7 linked regions of the Homo sapiens genome follow. The protein of the gene in region 7 interacts with the protein of the main gene of each other region in a pairwise test. Each region holds a gene or a part of one and is shown on either strand. Other genes may lie near its edges.

Region 1 (3,500 bases), on a different chromosome or scaffold from region 7:
CGCCAAGCAGAGTTGATCCTGGAGGAAGCAGTGAGGGAAGCGGCAGTTGCAAAGGCACGGAGTGAGTGGGGGCAGAGGAAAGGGAGCAGTGGGGGCATTGAAGGGCAGGGCTGGCAAGAGTGCCAGGGGTGTCCTCTAACATTGGGCCCCTTCCCACAGCCATCATTTTGCGCAACCTGAACCCACACAGCACCATGGATTCCATCCTGGGGGCCCTGGCACCCTACGCGGTGCTGTCCTCCTCCAACGTGCGCGTCATAAAGGACAAGCAGACCCAACTGAACCGCGGCTTTGCCTTCATCCAGCTCTCCACCATCGTGGTGAGGGCGGCACAGTTGGGGGCCGGGCAGCCAGGGTCCCGGCCCCCGGGGTGGAGACGAGGGTCCTTTTCCCCAGCCTCCCACCGCGGCTGCCAGCCTGGAAATCGGGCAATGGAGCCGGGGGCCTCCCCGGGCCTGACCCTTCTGTCCCTGCCTCCCCTCCTCCCACAGGAGGCAGCCCAGCTGCTGCAGATCCTGCAGGCCCTGCACCCACCACTCACTATCGACGGCAAGACCATCAATGTTGAGTTTGCCAAGGGTTCTAAGAGGTCAGGGCCCCACCTGTGTGCCTTCCCACCCTTCCCCTCCCCACCCTCCCACTCCCCCCTACCGCTTGGGGCCTCCTATCTCACTCCCAGTCTCTAACATCCTCCTCAGGGACATGGCCTCCAATGAAGGCAGTCGCATCAGTGCTGCCTCTGTGGCCAGCACTGCCATTGCTGCGGCCCAGTGGGCCATCTCACAGGTACTCAGACCCCTTGTGCCTCCCAGCGTCCTGAGACCTGGGCTTTCTCAACCCTCCTGCACCCTCTCTGAAGCAGGAAGGCTGGCTTGCTATCCATGGATGCAAAACCCTCTCCCAGTAGCTGGCATGGCTATTCTACCTTGCTCCTGGCTCTCTAGACCCCCTGGGACATTCCCCTTCATCATCACCGCAGCTTTCTTCCCAATTGCCTCCCATGCGCTCATGTACGACGCCATTGTGCCTGGCATTCTGTGCTGTTTGGTGGGGTTTTTATTGTCCTGAATAGGTATGATATACACATATCCTTATATGTAATATATACATATATGATATACACGTATCATATGTTCCTGAATAAAAATAACGTATAAGTGGTTGAGAGAAAATTGGGAGAAGAGAATAAAGAAGTAAGAAGATGGTGTCTTCCTTGGCCTGACACCCAACACACACGCCACACACAGCAGAATCAGCAGAATCAGCCCTGGAACATTTTGGCGTTCATCTGTTTTTCTGTCTTGTGTTTGCCACTGGCCTATTTGTTCTCTTGTGGCCAGGCAACCCTCGCTTTCCACTTGTCTTAAGGCTGCATGCTTTGTCTGTCAGGTAGAAATACTAGCCCCACGTGTGGGACAGATGCTTCTAGCAGGTTCCCCACCCCCCACCCCCACACCTTCCTGTTCTAATGAACCCCTCCCACCTGCCCTTCAGGCCTCCCAAGGTGGGGAGGGTACCTGGGCCACCTCCGAGGAGCCGCCGGTCGACTACAGCTACTACCAACAGGATGAGGGCTATGGCAACAGCCAGGGCACAGAGTCTTCCCTCTATGCCCATGGCTACCTCAAGGGCACCAAGGGCCCTGGCATCACTGGAACCAAAGGGGATCCCACTGGAGCAGGTGAGCCCCAGCATCTCTCTCTGCAGCTGTGGTGGGGGCCAGCAGGCATAAAGTCCCCGGCCCCATTATTCACAGGCATTGTCCCTGCCCTGTCCCTCCTTACAGGTCCCGAGGCCTCCCTAGAGCCTGGGGCCGACTCTGTGTCGATGCAGGCTTTCTCTCGCGCCCAGCCTGGTGCTGCTCCTGGCATCTACCAACAATCAGCCGAGGCGAGCAGTAGCCAGGGCACTGCTGCCAACAGCCAGGTGAGTGAGCCCTGTGGGTATGTATCCCGGGGAGGCAGGCAGGCGGCAGGGGTGGCATGGGCAGACACTGAGCCCTGTTCTCCTGTCTGGCCCCATGACCAGTCGTATACCATCATGTCACCCGCTGTGCTCAAATCTGAGCTCCAGAGCCCTACCCATCCTAGTTCTGCTCTCCCACCGGCTACCAGCCCCACTGCCCAGGAATCCTACAGCCAGTACCGTGAGTAGCCACAGCCTGTGGGTAGGGGTGGGGAGTTCTTAATAAAGCAGGGAATAGTGTGACCCCGTTCCCCTCACCCCCTAGCTGTTCCCGACGTCTCTACCTACCAGTACGATGAGACCTCCGGCTACTACTATGACCCCCAGACCGGCCTCTACTATGACCCCAACTCCCAGGTAATAGGGCAGCCCAGGGAGGGATGGGATCGGGTCAGGTCGCGTCAGGAACAGCTAGCCCTGCAGGTTCCCTTCACAAGGTCTTCCCTCACATCCCCTCTTCCCTCCTCCTCCCTCAGTATTACTACAATGCTCAGAGCCAGCAGTACCTGTACTGGGATGGGGAGAGGCGGACCTATGTTCCCGCCCTGGAGCAGTCGGCCGACGGACATAAGGAGACAGGGGCACCCTCGAAGGAGGGCAAAGAGAAGAAGGAGAAGCACAAGACCAAGACAGCTCAACAGGTGAACACCAGGGTCCAGCAGTCACTGGCTGGCTGTGTGGTGTCTTCCAGCAACGGCACTCTGTCAGCTCTTGCCCTCTCCTGCCAAGGGAGATGGCGGGCAGGTGTGGATGTGGGCAGTGACTGCTTAGCAGACCATGCTCTTGCCCCAGCTCTGCTCTTTGCTGAATGGCCTTGAGCCAGAGCAGTCTCCTCAGTGTGTGGCAGGGTTGCCCAACTCCAGGAGGTGGCTTGTGCCATCCGAGTGAGCCCTGTCAGGTGTCTTCTGTCCCATGGTGGGGACCCTCACATTCTGCTGGTGAATATACATGTATGCCAGAGAAATTCTCACAGGCCATAAGGGGGTGGGCAGGAAAAAAGCCCTGCAATGTTTTGTGGGAGTGGGCAGATGGAGGGCACCTCAGTGTCTCTCTGTGGAGAAAGGGTGTGACACTGTGAGCGTAGCGTTTACAAGCAAGCACTAAGTGTTACCTTAGCAACCTGATGAATTCTAAAAATGGTGCTGTGCTGGGGGGAACATGGAAATATAGAATGTGGCATTGTGTCATGCATATAAAGTTATACACAAATAAACATTCCTATGCATTTTTAAATGATAAAATGGAAATGCACAACAAATGTGACAGCGTGGGTGTATGTCAGGGGAAGAGGAGTGTCTTCATCCATTTGCTGCTCCATAACAATACCACAGACTGGGTAATTTATAAGGAAAAGAGATTGATTTGGCTCACAGTTCTGTAGGCAGGGAAGCCCAGTGGTGTTGGCATCTGGTGAGGGCCTTCTTGCCGCATCATAACATGGCAAAGGGCAAGAGAGCATGCATGAGAGCAAGAGAAAATTGGGCCAAACTCCCCCTTTTTATCTGGAACCCACTCAGTGATGGCATTAAATGGAG
Region 2 (3,500 bases), on a different chromosome or scaffold from region 7:
CAGAAAAGCTATCCTTCTTAATCTTCTGGTTCATATGGTCCCATAAGTTTATAATCAGAAATAGGTACCAGTATCACCCCCCACCATAATCCCCATGACAAGCCAAACATTTTTAAAATGTGATGCCCACTGTAGAAGAAATCTCCAGAACAAGTTCATTCTTGCTGGATATGATCAAAGATTAATGTTTTTAAAATGTTAAAAATCTGGCCCACTTGTCTGTGAAAATCCATATCACAAGATTATAAGAATGAAACTGGGGAACAGCCTTGTTAGTAGAAGAAAAACCTTGTAGGATCTTTTGAAGCTAACCAGAATGGTGATGATGAAAATGTGAGAACAGGAATACTAAAGAATCTCCATTCCAAGGCTCTATTCCATGCCCTGCACCTATCTTCTCTCATTATATTAATACAAGCAAAGGGTCTTGGTAGCTGGCAGGGACCAATGCTATCATGTTTTGGGGGGTATGTGCTTTAGGAAATCTATCAGCCTATTCCTCTTCTTAAATTTACAAGAGACATCAGAAAAGCCTGAATAGTTACTTTAACATTAAGTCCTAAAATAGGTTATATAGAATTTATTTTAAGATATATGGCATAAAAAGTTACAGCCTGCTAAATTTTATATTTTGATACTTACTTGCAGAGCTGTAATTCTGACATAGTAACAATTGCACTCTGGATAGCCGGTGCCTTCTATCATCCAGAACTTTCTATATACAAAATTAGAAGTAACGAAAGCTATCTTTGGCTATCAAGCAATAGCTGAAAATAATCAAAGAAAAAGTAACTGGCTGATTTATCTATTAAAAAAGACAAGTTCTCATCAGCTGGTGATAGCTACAGAAGCCAACTAGAGCCTCCCCAAATCCAAAGGAAAAGAAATAAAAAAGAAAAAAAAAGATGAAAATATCAAGGGACAGAGGTGATAGACAACCCAATGATAAAGGAAGAAGTTAAAATGAAAAACAGATCACCATGAAGGAGACGTGAGCCTTAAAACTAAACAACACAGCAGAAATACTGCCTCACAGTGAATATGCAACAAATTTACAAAAAGGGTTGCCTCTGGGGAAAGGACTGAGACGGTGAAGGGGACCACAAAAGACTTTATTTGTAATGCTTTATGCACTTTTTACTTTTTTTTTTTTTTTGAGACGGTGTCTCACTCTGTCGCCCAGGCTGGAGTGCATTGGCACCATGTGGGCTCACAGCAACCTCCGTCTCCTGGGTTCAAACAATTCTCCAACCTCAGCCTCCCGGGTGGCTGGGATTACAGGCACCCACCACCACATCTGGCTAATTTTTATATTTTTAGTAGAGACAGGTTTCACCATGTTGGCCAGGCTGGTCTTGAACTCCTGACCTCAGGTGATCCACCCACCTTGGCCTCCCAAAGTGCTGGGATTACAGGCGTGAGCCACAGTGCCCGGCCTCTTTATCCATTTTTTAAAATTTGACAGAAATATACGAAATAACATTTGTTCAATCATACAGATGCTTGTTTGACCTCTGTACTTTTTAAAACATTTTTTTAAATGCAGACACCTATAATCACTATCACAGAACTTATTACTTAAAAATAAACATTCAAGTGTAATTCTTCATTCCCATTAGATTTTTGGTCAAAAGATGACAGAAGCAAATTATGTCTATAATCTCTAAGAAAAGGAAATAAAGATATAACTAAAGCAACTCTGCAACCTGGGTATCAATCTATTGCTATAAATAATTACTATACCCTAAAGCACATCAACCAATAAATATACAGAACACCATGTGCAGGGAAGCACTCCCTCTAACACAATGGAGTAAATTAAATTGTAACAGGAAGTTTTCAAAATATTTATACATGGTGTCCAGACTCACGTGAATCGACTGCTTAGTCCTAGCAACATGCCCTGCCGCTCTGCTCCCGTCCATAATGCAGGCTCACAGCCACTTTCCCTAGCATTTCTATCAGGCCTCTCTTTGATAAGCAGCTTTTCCCACAGCCAGGTACCTCTTCACATTCCCACTGTGGAACCAGTTGGTGAAATCCTGCAGAAACACTGACCCCCGTGGACCAAAGCACTAACGGAGAGGTGAGAAATTGAGCTAAATGAGGTAATTTCATCCTGGAGGTCTTGATGGACCTCTCTAGGGATCTCCTAGATCTCTCTGTCTCACAGGCTTGTATTTCTGTCCAGTCATTTCTGCTTACAGGCTTAGGTATATATATAGTTCAAACAGCTTTCCTTTCACATGAATACTCCCTGGAACAGTAATTTCCAAAGTATGAGATTTGCACAAAAGATGACTTTAGGTGTTACATGATTTTGCCAACAAGACATTTTAAATACCACTCAGTAAGGAAATTATTAATCACAATTAAGTCAAGAAAAAAAGTTCCCATTTTGCAACAGTACTTGTTTAATAAATTTAACAACTTCTAATTTTTAGCACAGGAACCCTAAGTGACAAGAGTCTAGTTACATAATACACCATTTTGTTTTCATTGTATTTATTTTTATGGTGGTATAAACTTTCATTTTAAAATTAACTTAAAATTTTTAGAAAGTGAGTTGACATAAAGGAAAATATTAAATAAACAGAAAACAGTAAATAATAATAAAGGCAAGGCCAGGCATGGTGGTTCACGCCTGTAATACCAGCACTTTGGGAGGCCAAGGCAGGTAGATCACTTGAGGTCAGGAGTTTGAGACCAGCCTGGCCAACATGGCAAAACCTCATCTCTACTAAAAATACAAAAATTAGCAGGGCATGACAGTGCATGCCTGTCATCTCAGCCACTCGGGAAGCTAGGGTAATCGCCTGAACTCGAGAGGCGGAGGTTGCAGTGAGCCAAGATCAGGCCACTGCATTTCACGCCTGGGAGACAGAGACTCTGTCTCCAAAAAATAAAAAATAAAAATAAATAATAATAAAGGCAATAAGTGTGACAAACATTTGGGAAACACTGATCTAGAAGAGGGTTTCTCAAACTTTTAATGTGTATCAGAATCACCTGGAAGGTTTCTAAAAACATGGATTGCTGGGGCCCATATCCAGAATTTCTGACTCAGTAGGTGGGTCCAAGAATTTATATTTCTAACAATACGACGTGATGCTGAGGTGATGCTGAATTGCTGCTCCAAGGACCACACTTGGTTTAGAATAACTAAACCAGAATGGTGATCAACAAGCTTTTGTTAGAGTCAAATGGTAAATGTTTTCGGTTTGCGGGCCATATGACTCTGTTGCAACCATTCAGCTCTGCTGTCGTAAGCCAAAGCAGCCATAGACATCATGTATATGAATCGGCATGGATGTGTTCCAATAAAACTTTATTTACCAAAAGCAGGAGGCCATAGTGCCAGTCCCTGATCTAAAACATACCTTCAAGTAACTTTAACTATTAAACTATTAAAGTTACTTTAAGAGAAAAGTCTACCATTTAAACTAATACTAGAGCACAGTACAGAACAGAACAGCCAGGTATATTATAGATACTATCCA
Region 3 (3,500 bases), on a different chromosome or scaffold from region 7:
CGCGGTGGCTCACGCCTGTAACCCCAGCACTTTGGGAGGCTAAGGTGGGTGGATCACGAGGTCAGGAGATCAAGACCATCCTGGCTAACACGGTGAAACCCCGTCTCTACTAAAAATAAAAAAAATTAGCCGGGTGTGGTGGTGGGCGCCTGTAGTTCCAGCTACTCGGGAGGCTGAGGCAGGAGAATCGCGTGAACCCAGGAGGCGGAGCTTGCAGTGAGCCGAGATCGCGCCACTGCACTCCAGCCTGAGTGACAAAGCGAGACTCTGTCTCCAAAAAAAAAAAAAAAAAATAGTAGTAATAATAATAGTCAATATAGAAAATAGTTATAATGACTAAGTTATAAATGGGTTTAATAAAGGTATTTTTAAAATGATTACCTTTTAAAAGGATATTTTACCTCAGTTTTTGTTTATTAAGAGTGGTTTTAAAAAGTCTAAGTTATTTCTAAATTCTCAAGGTTCAGCTACCTCTTATACTGTACTAGGAGATCAATATTATTTATCCAATTCATATAAACAGCCTATGTGTTTGTGAGTGTTAACCTACAGAAACAAAATGTCTCAATTACGTATTGTCTAGAAGTAAAATGTCACAATCATGTCTCAAAAATACATATGCCAGGTAACTGCTGATAACTATAATTAAATATTGTGATAGGCTCCAACAAATAATTAGGTAATCACATCATCTCACTGTCCGGAAATGTCTTAGAAGCAAATCAGAAATAAGTATACAAATACTATTTCTTCATTACTTGATCAGAATGCCAGGACATAAGGTACAGATTAAATCAGGGACAGTCTTGTCATTGACAGAGAAATCGCCCATTGTTTTCAAATTAGTACCTATCACATGCTCAAGTACTAGATGAAGTGTTAGGAGTACAAAAACTCCTAATATAGTAACAGAATGGTCAGCTAAACGTGTAATCACAATTTGTTCAAAATCGTTTTCCTTATAGATAGCTTATTAAATAAAAGATAGGGTAACATAAATCTATACTCAATTCTAAAATAAATTTAATTGGCAAAACCAATGAGAAAAAACTGATCAGCTGATACATCAGTGTACAAACATACAAATTGTACTAATTTTGGCTAAGTTCTACACAAATAAAGTATATATAACTATTTCAAAAATGAACATTCAACTCTAATTTTCATGAAGTCCTAATATTAAAAAAAATTTTAAAACTGGATTAATAGATCCTACCAAATATTTCTAAACCAAAAATCTTTGTTTTATGAGTAACCACTGAGAATACTTTGAAGCGCTCCATCAATGATGTGACTGCATTACCAAAGTAGAACTTTTGGCTCAGACCAAATGACTTAAAATTTCTTTCAGAATCTAGATATTGATCTCAATAGAGAACAGAATTGAATATATCTTTTCCTTAAATCAAGAAAATGATGGAACTCATCTTCTAGGGAACTCTACTGGTAAACTTAATAAATCTTATATTTCTAGAAGAAAAAGAAACATGTTTTATAGCATAAATATAAGCTCATAAAACCAATCTGGTTTTGTCAAGAAAATGAAGGAAGACTATTTTGAATGAGGAAATTGGACATGGGCAGTGTAGCTTCCTGTTTAGTTTTAAGACTAAATATAACCTTTGAAAAAAGCAGAATGTTTTCTACCATGTAAGTATCTACTAGTAGTCTAGTAAATGAAGACCAGATTTTCTTTATCGTAAAGTAGGAAGTTCTGAATGATCAAATCACTTTACCTTTCAACCTTTTCAAGTACACTGGAACATCACTTTTAATGCTTTTAGAATCCTCTTCTGTTCTTTCCCATAGCATTTGAGGAGGGTTGTTTTGTGCTAGCCAGTCAGCAACTTTGTTTTCGGGTGCCATCATTCCTGTTTGAATCCCCAGCAAGTCTTGAGTTCCAGGAGAAGACTTCTTGGACTTGTGGCGCTGATCAGAAGTAAACTTTGTCACATGGTCTCTAATAGTTACCTTCCCTGGGGTACTGTCATCAAATTCAATGGTAAATGAAGCATGCCCTGCACCTGTTATATGGGAACTTGGCGTGTCTTTTGTTGGGATTTCATGAATAGTGCTTTCTGTTATTTGTGATGGTTGCTGGAATTCTTTTGTAGGGATTTCAAAATAACTTGGTTCCCTACAGAAAGGAAAAAGTACTTCTTCATTTGCAGCTGCAGATTGTTCCTCAACTTGCTTGGCATCTATGCCGCACCCTAATGAGAAAAATAAGAGAAAATTCAAAATATTTGATTGCTTCTGGCACTTGAGGGAGTCTGGTAATGGCCATGTGTACTACTCCGTGAGAACCAGAAGGCAGATCACAGTCTGGATGAAAACCAATGGCATTTATATCACAGAACAAATGTCACAGAGAAGAAAGAATCTTGATTATAAACATGCGATTTGATTACCAATAGGGGATGGAAGATAAGCAGCAGCAATGGCAAATGAGAGCAAAGCAGTTAAGAAATGGATCTTGCATGGCTAGGTCCATATTTTTTCCAACCTGGATCTAGAATTCATCAAGGTCCAAAAGAATTAAAATAAAATGTAGATGGAGATGCATGTTCAATGTATATATAAAAAGTGACAGAAAAACCATGAACTCCCTTCTCAAGTCGCCAAGATGAGATATCTGAAATATATATGAACACATGTAGTGCTCCAAAGGAGAATAGGTGCTCAAATGAGAATACAAACATGAAGTAAATATGTAAGTGATCTTCTGGAAGTAATGATTCCACTTACCATTCTTCACCATTACATTCGGAAACATTACTTTCAGAATGACAAAGATATTGCTGAAGTGCGATCCTTGCAAGAAGATACAAACATTTTATAAAGACTAAAACATGTGGTTTGCAATCCAAGCAGCAGTGTGAACGAAATAAGGTTAAAATAGGAAATTCAGTTTCCAGACAATAACTCTGGAAGTTTACATTTCCATACAGCAGAATATGCAAAAGTGTCAAAATTCCTTGGAGGAAAGCTGAATTGTAAACCTCAGATTAACATGAGTTGGCAGAAGGAGCAAGCAACTCTGGAACACTATCACTATTCTTCTGTTGCCTCAGAATCTAATACAAAAGTATAGAAACAGATGCATTTATGAATAAAATACATAAATAAAAATGACAACTAAAACGTTTTCGGTACGCAAATGCAAAATAAAAAAATTAAAGATGCTATTGTCCTGTTGTTGAAGAAGCAAAGCATGTCCATTATCAAAATGAAGAGCAAGTTGAAATGAGACATATTTCCCTAAAGCTCAAAAATAAATTCTGCTTTTAAACAGATTAATAGAAAAATCACTTACAGACAATTTATTAGGAAAACAAGGCAATACAGGGAGACTAGGTTGTTTCCAAACATTTTCTAATTAAGTGAAGCGTTTGGTCTTTTGAAACATCTTTTCAAAAATTAAATTTTAGTGGGATCTGTCAGGTACTATAATTGGTTTCTTGACAGCAGTCTGAATATGAAATAATATAAAACCTGAC
Region 4 (3,500 bases), on a different chromosome or scaffold from region 7:
TCTAGGATTCAATCAAGAAGCACACATATTACATTCGGTTGTTAGGTCTCTAGTTATTATGTCTCCTCTCTAATCTAGAAAAAAATATATATATTTTTTACTTTAATGGGAATGACTTCTTGGAAGAGACCAGTCCTTATAGAATGCGCCAGAGTCTGAATTTGCCTGATTCATTCCCGCGGTGAGATTCAGGCTGAGCGTTTTGACAAGAGCACCTTGCAGGAGATGCTGTATGTCTCCTCCCCAGCCCTGCATCTGGCGGCTGGCAGGGTCAGGCTGCCCCACTGTTGGGGAGGCTGTTTGATCACATGGTCCAGGTGGCAGCTGCCAGATCTCTCCTCTGTAAAGACGCAGTTTCCCTTCCTGATTCACAGGTAATTTGGGGTAATATTTGGAGACTTTGTGAATATTCTGTCCCCAACGACCTTACATCTAATGGTTTTGGCATCCAGTGATGATTTTTGCCTGAATTAATTACTGCATTGGTGGCTGCAAAATGTCTCCACCAACATGTTAGAATTCTAGCAGGGACAAAGAGGTGACAGGCCCGGCAAGTAGCATGGCTGCCCACGCCCCCAACTGTGGCCTCCTGGGCAAGCCACACCACCCGCTTCCATAACTCTGTGCCCACCCTTTCTGCCTGGGGGCAGGAGAGACAGAAACATGGGAGGGCTTCATCTCAAAGGCCTTTGAGCAGTTAGTCGGGGGAGGGGTGTCTGGGCGTCCATGAGAGACATGTATACCGGTAGGGGTGCCGGTGACAGGGAAGGGGGTCAGTTAGCTGCACATGGCAGGGAAGAACAAGTTATGTCCTGTAAAGCCCTCACGTAGGCAACGACTCCTGGATGTTCTGATTTACCCTCTATGTGTGTTTTTTTACCCTCTATTTGTAAACAATTTTTACCCTCTATTTGTAAAAAAAAAAAACAAAACAAACAAACAAAAAAAACAACACCTCACTTCACCACCCATGTTAATGTGGTTTGGGGCTACCATAGATCTACTCCCGGTCCCTACCCAAGGCCCTGGCTACTCACAGCCAGTGGGATCCACATCACCTGGGAGCTTGTGAGAAGTGCAGAATCCCAGGCCCCATGCTAGTGGCTCAGTCAGAAAGTGCACCTTAACAAGGACTTCGGGTGGAGGGTGGCGCTGTACTGACTCAGAGCGCGCCCTGGAGGAACCAGGGCAGACCTCAACGAAGGCCTTCTGCATGAGGGCATCTTTCTTTCCCCTCACTTCTCCTTCCCTCCCCGAAGCCCAGGGTCTGCTGAAGTCTCATCAATCCACCTGGCCCCCACCTTTCCGGGAGAGCGGCGGCCTCTCAGACACCTCCATAGTCCTGGCTCAGAAGCAGAAAGGAGGCCGGGCGCGGTGGCTCACGCCTGTAATCCCAGCATTTTGGGAGGCCGAGGCAGGCGGATCACTAGAGGTCAGGAGTTTGAGACCAGACTGGCCAACATGATGAAACCCTGTCTTTACTAAAAATACAAAAATTAGCCAGGCGTGGTGGCAGGTGCCTGTAATCCCAGCTACTCGGGAGGCTGAGGCAGAATTGCTTGAACCCAGGAGGCGGAGGCTGCAATGAGCCGAGATCACAACACTGCACTCTAGCCTGGGTGACAGAGCAAGACTCTGTCTCAAAAAAAAAAAAAAAAAAAACACACAGGAAAAGAGGGGTGTCCCACACCTTGCACAGGAAAAGCCAACCACTTCCTGAAGCCATTCTCAAGATCAACCTTCGGGTACATATTCACAGCTTTCCAGGCACGTGGCCCAGCAACTAAACCCATCCTCCCACCCACCTCAGGCTAACCTGACTGGCTAAGGGCACAGTTCACATCTAGCAACAATCAAAGCAATATTCCCTCTGCAGCGTTTTACAATCAAAGCAATATTCCCTCTGCAGCGTTTTTCATTCTCAATGCTCCAAGCAGCCATGAGGACAGGCAGAATGCACTGAAAGGGAGGACATCTTGTCCAGCCCCAGGCTGCTCAGCCTCGCCTCCTCCGGCCCAACTCCTGTGCAAAATGACCACATATGCCTCCGCTTTGTTCCCTGTCCATCTGTTTTTTCTTTCTCTCTCTCTCTCTCTCTCCCTCCCTCCCTCTCTCTCTCTCTCTTTCTCTCTGTCTTTCTTTCTTTTTTTTCCAGACACAGTCTGGCTCCATTGCCCAGGCTAGAGTGCAGTGGTACAATCACGGCTCACAGAAGCCTCCAACTCCTGGGTTCAAGCAATCCTCCCACTCAGCCTCCCCAGAAGCTGGGACTAGAGGCGCATGCCACTACGCCTGAGCAATTTTTTATTTTTGTAGAGACAAGGTCTCAATATGTTGCCCAGGCTGTCCTAACTAATATTGTACTACATCACACTTCTTCAAAACTTGGAGGTCCCTTTCCTGAGAGAAATTCTCAGAATAATATTGGACATTCTTCTGTCACTGGGCATTAACTGTGACATACCCAGATGTAAGGCCTTCTCCATATAATTTCCTTTTTCATTATTTTTTATTTAATTAATTTATTTATTTGAGACAGGGTCTCGTTCTGTCACCTAGGCTGGAGTGCAGTGGCTTGATCTTGGCTCATGCAACCTCCACCTGCTGAGTTCAAGCAGTTCTCCTGCCTCAGCCTCCCGAGTAGCTGGGACTACAGGTGCATGATGCCCAGCTAATATATATATATATATTTTTTTTTGAGATGGAGTTTCGAGCCCAAGCTGGAGTGCAATGGCGTGATCTCAGCTCACCACAACCTCCACCTCCCGGGTTCAAGCAATTCTCCTGCCTCAGCCTCCCGCGTACCTGGGATTACAGGCATGTGTCACCATGCCCGGCTAATTTTGTATTTTTAGTAGAGATGGGGTTTCTCTATGTTGGTCAGGCTGGTCTCGAACTCCTGACCTGAGGTGATCCGCCCACCTCAGCCTCCCAAAGTGCTGGGATTACAGGCGTGAGCCACCACGCCTGGTCAATTTTTTGTATTTTTAGTATAGATGGGGTTTCACCATGCTGGCCAGGCTGGTCTCGAACTCCTGACCTCATGATCCACCCGCCTCGGCCTCCCAAAGTGCTGGGATTACAGGCGTGAGCCACCGCACCCAGCCAATTTCCACTTCTTAATGACCAACTGAATGGCCCGAGGGCAGCAACTCCCTCCTCCACCCAGTGAGATCCCGGGGGACACACCATCTGTTTTCCTTGTCACAATGGCCCTCGGACGCAAGCACTCTTCACTGCCATTTCACAGTTGAGGAAACTGAGTCACTGAGCCAGTGGGCCATGCAGCGACTTGCCCCTGGCCACACAGCTGTCAGTTGGTGGCTGCCTCCATTCCTATCTCCACACTGCACTGCCTTCTCTGGCAGGGCCCCTGAAGTAGAAGGAAGGAAAGGACACCTTTCTCCCCAGGATGCGTGCATGTGGCCATGGAGTTCCTGTTCTAAAGCTTTGGTGAGGTCTGTTGCTGGGTGGTAACCTGCACATCTTCAGTGTGCAAA
Region 5 (3,500 bases), on a different chromosome or scaffold from region 7:
CAGGAAACTTTTAATATATTCCTTGAATATCAATATTTTCGTAAGTCATCACTAGGGGTTATTGAGAAAATTAGATTTTTGAAATTAGTATGTATTTAAGATAAATAATTCAAGATTGGGGAAACAGAAATAATAGAAAGACATTATCAAGAATCAGCTGAAAATATGTTCAAGGCATCTCAGCCTCCATTTTCCTCTGTAATGGAAAAGATTTCAGGCTGGGTGCGGTAGCTCACACCTGTAATCTCAGTACTTTGGGAAGCCAGTCTGAGCAACATAGCAAGATCCCATCTCTAAAAACAAAAAACAAAAACCAAAAAACTTATTTAAAAATAAGCCAGGTGTGGTGGCATGTGCTTGTAGTCCCATCTGGGAGGCTGAGGTGGAAGGATCACTTGAGCCTGGGAGTTCCAGGCTTCTGTGAGCTACAATCGTGCCACTGCACTCCAGCCTGGGTAATGGAGTGAGACCCTGCCAATCCATCAATCAATCAATCAGAAAAGATTTCAACATGGGACAAGGTGACTCAGGTGTGATCTTCCAGTGAGAGCAGGAATGCCCTGTCCAGACTCTCTGCTCACCATTCCTCAATGTAACTGAGGTAGTAATGATGCTGTCTCTCCGTGCAGCTGCCATAACAGGGCTCCATAAAGTTCACAAATATCTCTGGGTGCTTTTCTTCTTTTTTCTACAATGAACAAAGCAAGAAAAAAAATTCTCATGTGCAATTTTTCTCAGATCCCACAGCAAAAGAATCTCAAATAATAAATCATTTAAAGTTATATGAGAATATTTACTCAAAGTCCAGATATACGGACATGGTATAAAGGCAGCACTTAGTACAAGGAGTACAAACATTGGCCATCAACCGAACTGCATTTAAACTCTGTTCTGCCACTTTCTGCCCACGAGACATGCAGATTTTTCAACCTTCCTGATACTTAGTGTTCTCATGTGTATACTAGACCTACTAAGCCTACTTCAGAGGCTACTGTAAAGTGTAAAATGAAATGATACATACAAAACTTCCAGCCCAGTACATGAAACATAAGTAGCAGTTAATAAATACTAGTGTTAATATTATCCCCTAGAATAGAAAAAACCTCTAATCTTAAAATAAGGCATCTAGATAAACATATTTCAAAAACTCAACCTTATTAGAAATCCAAAAGAGTTAAAAACAAGACATCTTTTTCAAGTATCAAATTGGCCTCCCTTGACACACAATCTCAAACACATACCAGTCATCATCTATCCCTAACACGGCTTTATTTTCTCCATCACTCTTATCAGTCCTTGATCTCACATTTAGTATTGACTATCCCATTAAAATGTAAGACCAGCCAGGTGTGGTGGCTCAAACCTGTAATCCTAGTGCTCTGAGAGATGAGGCGGGAGAACTGCTTAAAGCCAGGAGTCCGAGACCAGCGTGGGCAACAAAGCAAGACCCTACCTCTGCGAAAAATTTAAAAACAGCTGGCTGTGTTGGTGCATGCCTGTGGTCCCAACTACTCGGGAGGCTGAGGCAGGAGGATGGCTTAAGCCCAAGAATTTGAGGCTGTAGTGAGCTGTGATCGCACCACTACATGCCAGCCTGGGCAACAGAGTGAGATTCTGTCTCTAAAAAATAAATAAAAATTAACAACAACAACAAACTTAAAACCATAAAAGCAAGCCCATCACCTTGATCACTGCTATATACTCAGCTTTAAAGCAGTGCCTAGCACACTGTTGGCATTAAATATTCGAGAGCAAATGAAATAATTTTAAAAATCAAGATACTGTCTTGCTTTTCTAAAATTTATCGAGTTAACCAAGACTCATAGTTTATAGCTTAAGCAAAATCATTTTTTTTTTAACCTCATAACAGTAGAACATGCTGTGGACACTCCAATTTTAGACCCCTGGCCCATGGTGCAGCATGGAAACCTTATACCTGAAGTTGCATAATCACTGCCAGTAAGTAAAAGAACCTGAAATCAGGCCAGGTGCGGTGACGCACACCTGTAATCCCAGCACTTTGAGAAGCCTAGGTGGGCAGATCACTTGAGCTCAGGAGTTCAAGACCAGCCTGGGCAACATGGTGAAACTCCATCTCTACCAAAAAAAAAAAATTAGCCAGGCATAGTGGTGTGCACCTGTAGTACCAGCTACTCAGAAGGCTAAGGTGGGAGGATCACTTGAGTCCAGGAGGTCCAGGCTTCAGTGAGGTGAGATCGCATCACTGCACTCTAGCCTGGGCGACAGAGTGAGATCTTGTCTCAAAAAAAAAAAAAAAAAACACAAACACAAAAAAACCCCTTGAAATCAAAGCCTCCAGCTTTATTAGAAGACTTCTCTAATTCTCAAACAATGAAATTTCTTCCACAGGCATACCGGTAGTAGAGCCATCACCACATCTGGAGACGTTTCCAGGGTCCCATCTGCAGCAGCATACACTATGGCGAAGACGTAGGTACCAATCCACAGCACATCCAGAACTGAAAGACACATCTTAATCAGTAGCTCATAAAAATGACAGCAACCAGATACAAGAAAAAGCAGCTTATGTTTGGAATAGCCACTATGGATAAAAAAAAAATCAAAGGCCCTGATTTCATTGACTAAATATAATGCACAGGTACAATGACCCAAGAAGCCCAAACTCATCCCCAAATGGTAATTTTTCTGCTGGATTATAATCAGGGCAAATTATGAAGAATTGTAATAAAAAGTCGGGATCCATTTCATGTCATTTATCGTGAAACACAGATGTCACCCAGAGGGCCATAATTTACACTGACTTAATTAGCTGTTTGAAATAGTGACATTATTCATAAAGCAAACACCAATACCTCACTGAGCAGGTACATTACATGATTTTGAATTTCTGTAATATACATAACATGTCATTAGAGGTCAGCCCAATAAGAAAAGCAGTTGTTACCTCTGACAGGATGATCTGACTCATAAAACGGAGGACAAGGAATGACTTTTTTTTCCTGCAAAGTCTGAAAGAGATTTGGAGGGGAAAATAAAGTATCAAATGAAACAAATCCTAAACCAATCAAACTGTCAAATCTAATCTATTCCTTAGATGCTACCTGTTCCATCTCCTTGGCCGGGAGAGACTGAAGAAACAGAATAGTGCTATCTACTTCCAGGACTTCATCCTACAGAAACCCATGAACGTGGCTGGGTGTGGTGACTCATGCCTGTAATCTCAACACTTTGGGAGGCCGAGGCAGGTGGATCACCTGAGGTCAGGAGTTCGAGACTAGCCTGGCCAACATGGCGAAACCCCGTCTCTACTAAAAATACATAGCTGGGTGTGGTGGCGGGTGCCGTAATCCCAGCTACTCGGGAGGCTGAGGCAGGAGAACTGCTTGAACCCAGGAGGCATAGGTTGCGGTGAGCTGAAATCACGTCATTGCACTCCAGCCTGGGTGACAAAAGCAAAACTTGGTCTCCAAAAAAAAAAAAAAAAGAAAGAAAAGAAAAGAAACGCATGAACGCATGAA
Region 6 (2,229 bases), on a different chromosome or scaffold from region 7:
CTTTGTTGCCCAGGCTAGAGTGAGGTAGCATAATCACAGCTCACTGTAGCTTCTACCTCCCGGGTTCAGATGATGCTTCCACCTCAGCCTCCCAAGTAGATGGGATCACAGGCATGCACCAACACACTCAGTTAATATTTTTAAAACAATTTTTAATATGTGGGGGGTTGGGGGGACGTGGGTGTCTCCTTATTTTGTCCAGGCTGGTGTCAAACTCCTGGGCTCAAGAGATCCTTCCACTTTGGCCTTTCAAAGTGTTAGGATTTACAGGTGCTAGCCACCACACCTGGCTCTGAGGTTTCCTTGGCATTTTTGGGTAAATGCCTTAGAATACTCTAGGGCACAAAATTGTTGCTTTCTCTCTAAAATCCTGGGCCAAACATGTTGTAATAATCCTGTGATATTTTTACCTTTTCTAAGTCTTTCATATATTTGGAGAAAGAAAAAAATTACTCTTTTCTTTGAACAAAGGTTTAATTAGGAAAAAAGAGACAACCATATAGTATCTTTAGTATAGTATATTTATAGGAATGCATAACATGTGAGATGTACATTTTGAAGTTTCATCCATAACTTATAACATTTACTGTAGCAGTAACAAGACAGCAGGTCATCACTTTACAACATTACACATGAGTGATTTTGACTTACAAATAAAATATTTACAACCTACCTTTACAAAACGACATTGTGTGCATACAAAATGAACAACAGCAGAAAAATTTAAAAATAATAAAATAACCAAAAACCCAGAAGATACACTTAAGGCAGACCAGCAAGACACTGAAATAATTAAGGCTGTGGAATTCTTCTGCACCTTGAAAATATAGAGCTATTTATCAATACTGTGGAGTGATTTTAAATCAATTGTTACAAGCCTGATGGAAGTATGTACTTATATGTATATGTGCGATGGTCCCTATGGGGAAACCTGTCCACTTATGAATAAGGCCCTTTGTCTGAATGGCCAGTGAAGCCCACTCCAAATTCTCAAAAGACTTGAGGGGGGCAGGGGTCACTCAAAACCAAGAGATGCCAATACAGTTTGCAAATCAACTATTAATAGTTCAAATGTAAAGATAGTTATAAGTCCAGATAAACAGAATAAACTAAATGATGGCCCCTTTATGTTTCACACTTTGTTAGTTTGGCTTTGTGGATGTCAAAAGACAGCAAATTAATTCCAGAATGAGTAGAATTCGTCTCCACAAATTAGCCCTAATGGTTTTGAATGGCCCTAAATGGTTTTCCATTAGAAACATTGACCCACCTGGGCTGTCTGCAAATGGATAGATTTCTGCATATGAGCAATAACATATACATACATATTATACACTATATACATGTACAGATGTACATATATCCATATTTTCCAACAGTTTGCACTTTGATCACTACTGTTCTCTGAACAGGATCTCATTATGAAGAGTATGTTTAGTTTTTTTCAGTCTTCATATTTGTTCTAACTACTAGTTTTACTCACCTTCCCCATAGAGTAGGCTGAAGTTTGGCAGAAACAGAAGTAAAAGCACCAGGGTCAGAAAAATCAAACATAGAGTTGACAGATATGGCTTAAGTTAGTAAGAGAAGATGTATGTCTTGTTAACTTCAGATTCGTAGCCACAGTCTTTGAGGTCATAGTAACAGTCTCTGTAATACTCCAGAACATGGATTCAGTTGTTGATGGAAGTCAGGTATTGATGGAAACTCATATGATGGCCATCCCTGGGCCAACAAATTAGCTTGGTTAAACTAAGCCTCAGGAGTTGGCATTCCAAGAATTGTTATTTGCATTTCTTCTACCATGCTTCCTTTTCTCAGCTAACCTCACTATCTGAAATAGCAGTTATCTAACTAATGCGTTATCTTGATCATTTGAATAAAAACTAAATCTGAACACATTTTAGAATCTCACAGCAAAGGGGCACATTTCTCACAGAAAAATGCAATAGCCTGTGCGTATTAATTTCAGGCTTATCATAATGTCCCTCAAAGACGAAAAGTTGTCTTAGAGTGATTGCTTTTTCCTCTCCTCTAACTTCTTCATATTTATTGAAGATGAGGAAGAAATGCCTTTCATAGAAAATATGTTTTATGATAATCTGTATTCTACTACTTCTGCTTAAATTTTTTATGTGAGTAAATTTCCTATTAAAAACATTTAGTGCTATAAACAAATTTCAGCCCTTTTTAACCCTTTAGAATTAATGAAACAACTGAGAGCCTTAA
Region 7 (3,500 bases):
ACTAACCACCATTATCAACTGAGATGAGTAAGTTTTGAGGCTTGAAATAGAAATGGTTTGAAATGCAAATTTTTATGTGCAGCTACTGTTTTGACAACCATATCATTCCTCCTTCTTTTTTGTAGGCTTTAGAATCCAAATTAGCAGCTTGCAGGAATTTTGCAAAGGACCAAGCATCACGAAAATCCTATATTTCAGGGAATGTTAACTGTGGGGTGCTGAATGGCAATGGCACAAAGTTCTCTCGATCAGGGCATACATCTTTCTTCGACAAAGGGTAAGTCCTGAATGTTTTAAGTGATAATTTTTTGAGTAGTAAAGTGACAGGTTAGTAAGTGAGCATAATGAAGCCTTGAAAAGGTAAACTCAGCTTGACAAACCTTCCCGAAGCCTGTTATCATTCTAATCTTAGGTGACATGACGTCTGTTGTTGTCCTCTAGTCCCCATGGAGTCTGTTGCCCCAGGAACCCTGAATCTGAGGCTTCTGTCCTGGGAAGCAGACTCTTGAAAGGCAGCAGTGTGAGGCTCTGGTGAGTCAAAATGACTGCGATAAGGTCCCTGTTCTCCAGGTGCTTACAGGCTGGCAGACTTGGAAATATTTTTTTGGGGTAGAAGACAGCATCACAATTAAATATATGCAAACTCTACAACAGACATCCCCTGTGAGAATTTTAGAGAAATATAAAGCCCTGAAGTACTTAGGCACTGGATCAAATACAGTTTAGGAGATACAACTTTTGTATAAAGTTAAGGCTTTTTTGAAGATTGAAATAAAATTGTTTTAAGGTTGAAGCATCCTTAATGCAAAAAATTTCAGTTAGTATGGAAGTATATGAACTAAAAAGTCATGGTTTCCTGCCTTCACACTGTTTCTGCATTCCTTACAGTTATTCCAAGGCATGCCAAATCATATTTTTATGCATCTGCTCTAAGTTGTTTGTAACACAGTTACGGGATTATACTTTAAATATTGCTTTGCAGTGTGCCTATCATGACTTCTATTGCCATTATCTTTCCATGTCATGTATATTATTCTACCTCAATTTACTTATTTATTTTTAAATACTACATGGTAATACGTGGTTGTATGAGTATGCCTTAATATAGGTCACTATTAGGACCCGTGGCCTGGGATGCTCACGGTGTTGCCTAAGGTAGTTGTTATTGAAACAGCCAACAGGCACCCGTGATCCTTGGCTACTGTCTCTGCTTTGAGTCAAAGAGGTAATTCTTGCTTGTTTTTCTCTGAAAGCAGAGCAGGTACAACTCTAGAAACGCTCACAATCTCTGAAAGCAGCTGGGATTTTCTGCCGTCCTCAATAATTATGGCACATGTGTAAAGGAGCAGATTCGACACACGGTGCACTCTGAATAGGCTCTTATCCTTGCAGTGGAGTGTTTTGGTTGATCTCTGTCCCTGATTTTACCCTGGAGAATATACATTTCATTAAGGATTTTGTATTAAAAGCACATCCTAAAACATCACTATACAAATTAGAACTTTATTCTTTCTTAAAAAATTTGTTTAAATAATTTTTGTTTTCTTTTGAAGAGATGGGGGTCTCACTCTGTTGCCTAGGCTGATCTCAAACTCCTGGGCTCAAGTGATCCTCCTGCCTCAGCCTCCCAAAGTGCTGGGCTTGCCGCCGCGCCCAGCTGAAATCAGAACTTTATTCTAACCATTGGGTTTCCTCGGGTGGAGTAAACATAAAATTGATTTTCCTCAGGCTTAGGAGTTTCAGGCAGACTTGCGGCAGCCCTTGTTTTTATAGTGGAATGATAAATGGAATGACTGGATGGTTTTACATGAGCGTAGCCATTTCCCCTGAATGATATGGAGAACTTTTAGGGTAGTCTTCATAAATGTTGGAAGCAGTGCCTAATTATTTTTCCCTACAACTTATAATGATCCTCTACTAGAGTAGTTATTAGTTTCTCCTTGGAATCGTATTTCTTGATGGGCCGCAGGTGCCTTTCATGAGAGCAGGTGTGAATCATAAATGGATAGGTCGGACAGGTGCCTGTGCGTGTGGAAGCCCTGAAGAACAGTCACGAGGAGGGAAGGATAACACTGTCTGTTCAGGGTCGCTACTCCTGCCCGCCACTTGCCTCCCAAGACAGAGCACCAGGGCAGGGATTGCCAAGAGGTGAGCCTGTTCTGAGGGAGATGTGGGGACCTTAGGGTGAGCTGAAGCCAGGAACAGGCCTTGGGCACACTGACTGCACCTCTGCCCCTTGAGAGCATCCGAGATGTAAGTGTAGGCTTTACTTCCTGAGCTGAACCCGGAAATGTGCTGTGCTTCCCAATCGGAACAGTTGCAGATACTGAGTTTTGGTTTTAAATGGTAGACATTTTACATTGTGCCTTTTCTATTAAGAAATATGCTTTTGTGGGCTGGCTGTTGTGTGAGTGTTTAGCTTATATGATAAGTGGATTGTGTATGCGCACTGAAATATTAACCTACTGTTGCTGGAGTTGTCTTTCTAGTTGCTGTATTCCTGAGGATAACTCTTTTGTGGGTTTTGCTGTGTTTTCACTTTCTTGCCGCTTTGCTTCGATTCCGGCTTTTGGCCTGTCTGGCTTTTTACCTCTGGCTTTTCTTCTGCCAACCTGTTGACCAGATAAAAACCAAGATGTTGTGTAGCAGCCGCAAAAGGAAGGGCAGGATATTCCACTTCCCAGGTCCATTATACACTCTGGCAGGTTAAAAACACAAAAGCCTGTCTGTGTAGAAGTGGAGAAGTATGGCTTGTAGTTTCAGCATGAGAAAAGTGCCCCATTTGAAAAAGCCCTCCACTGCAGAACCTGCCTGCCCTCCCTCTCACTCCTGAGGAGTCTGTAGCACCGTGGTGATGGCTCACTAGTGCTGCCAGAAACCTGCGGCAGGATTGTTTGGGGGAGAGACATCATCAAAGTAGGTTTGTGTGTGTGTGCATGTGTGCGGGTGTACATGTGTTCACCTTCCCACCCGCTGAAACTTCAGATGCAGTGAAGCCTTCTCACATAAAACAATATACCTTAACTGGGCGTATTGCTCTGTGGGATTCAAAAGTATTTTGTAAATTCTGGTCACTTGAGGGCTTCTTGGAATCAGGTTTTTGTCTAGTCTGTGAGCACTTCTGCCAGTTCCTGAAACATGGGCTGCCGTGCCTGCTTCCCAGGTGCCGAGCTGTTTCCTTCAACCATGGTCACCCTTTGTCTCACCATCTGAAAGGACACACATTTCATGTGGAGTGTGGTCGCTTGGAGTCTCTCAAAAACACTCTTTTTTTTCCCATAACTTTATGTAGTTTCTTAGGTAACATGTGCTCTATTTTTGTAAGCCACTCTGAGTTCTTTTGGGCTGTGTGTAGGTGGGCATGGACTAATTTTAGGGCGTGATGTGGAAATAGTATTCGTATTACTGTTTAATATGTTCTCCTTTCTTTTATTAGGCAAGAAAAAGTCATATTTCCCACGTTGTTCATGGGTAACTGAATTTGTTTGCTGTGCTCTTTT

The links.
Region 1: the proteins of NDEL1 (region 7) and RBM10 interact in a two-hybrid assay, tested with the Homo sapiens proteins (one large-scale study listed by BioGRID).
Region 2: the proteins of NDEL1 (region 7) and LUC7L2 interact in a two-hybrid assay, tested with the Homo sapiens proteins (2 studies listed by BioGRID and IntAct).
Region 3: the proteins of NDEL1 (region 7) and CEP170 interact in a two-hybrid assay, tested with the Homo sapiens proteins (2 studies listed by BioGRID and IntAct).
Region 4: the proteins of NDEL1 (region 7) and PDZD4 interact in a two-hybrid assay, tested with the Homo sapiens proteins (one large-scale study listed by IntAct).
Region 5: the proteins of NDEL1 (region 7) and NUP214 interact in a two-hybrid assay, tested with the Homo sapiens proteins (one large-scale study listed by IntAct).
Region 6: the proteins of NDEL1 (region 7) and KALRN interact in a two-hybrid assay, tested with the Homo sapiens proteins (2 studies listed by BioGRID and IntAct).

What each region holds. Positions count from the first base shown.
Region 1 is NC_000023.11:47,179,721-47,183,220, forward strand, and holds part of RBM10 (RNA-binding protein 10), read left to right. Parts: exon of another isoform or gene 1-61; intron 62-159; coding exon 160-320; intron 321-491; coding exon 492-589; intron 590-698; coding exon 699-786; intron 787-1,494; coding exon 1,495-1,681; intron 1,682-1,786; coding exon 1,787-1,926; intron 1,927-2,028; coding exon 2,029-2,146; intron 2,147-2,230; coding exon 2,231-2,322; intron 2,323-2,441; coding exon 2,442-2,606; intron 2,607-3,500. UniProt on the Homo sapiens protein: Binds to ssRNA containing the consensus sequence 5'-AGGUAA-3'. May be involved in post-transcriptional processing, most probably in mRNA splicing. Binds to RNA homopolymers, with a preference for poly(G) and poly(U) and little for poly(A).
Region 2 is NC_000007.14:139,366,394-139,369,893, reverse strand, and holds part of LUC7L2 (putative RNA-binding protein Luc7-like 2), read right to left. Parts: intron 1-3,500. UniProt on the Homo sapiens protein: May bind to RNA via its Arg/Ser-rich domain.
Region 3 is NC_000001.11:243,189,282-243,192,781, forward strand, and holds part of CEP170 (centrosomal protein of 170 kDa), read right to left. Parts: intron 2,214-3,500; coding exon 1,737-2,213; intron 1-1,736.
Region 4 is NC_000023.11:153,820,545-153,824,044, forward strand, and holds part of PDZD4 (PDZ domain-containing protein 4), read right to left. Parts: intron 1-3,500.
Region 5 is NC_000009.12:131,132,086-131,135,585, reverse strand, and holds part of NUP214 (nuclear pore complex protein Nup214), read right to left. Parts: intron 2,991-3,500; coding exon 2,927-2,990; intron 2,481-2,926; coding exon 2,377-2,480; intron 689-2,376; coding exon 582-688; intron 1-581. UniProt on the Homo sapiens protein: Part of the nuclear pore complex. Has a critical role in nucleocytoplasmic transport.
Region 6 is NC_000003.12:124,724,597-124,726,825, reverse strand, and holds the end of KALRN (kalirin), read right to left. Parts: 3' UTR 501-2,229; downstream 1-500. UniProt on the Homo sapiens protein: Promotes the exchange of GDP by GTP. Activates specific Rho GTPase family members, thereby inducing various signaling mechanisms that regulate neuronal shape, growth, and plasticity, through their effects on the actin cytoskeleton.
Region 7 is NC_000017.11:8,459,884-8,463,383, forward strand, and holds part of NDEL1 (nuclear distribution protein nudE-like 1), read left to right. Parts: intron 1-125; coding exon 126-277; intron 278-3,436; coding exon of another isoform or gene 3,437-3,471; intron 3,472-3,500. UniProt on the Homo sapiens protein: Required for organization of the cellular microtubule array and microtubule anchoring at the centrosome. May regulate microtubule organization at least in part by targeting the microtubule severing protein KATNA1 to the centrosome.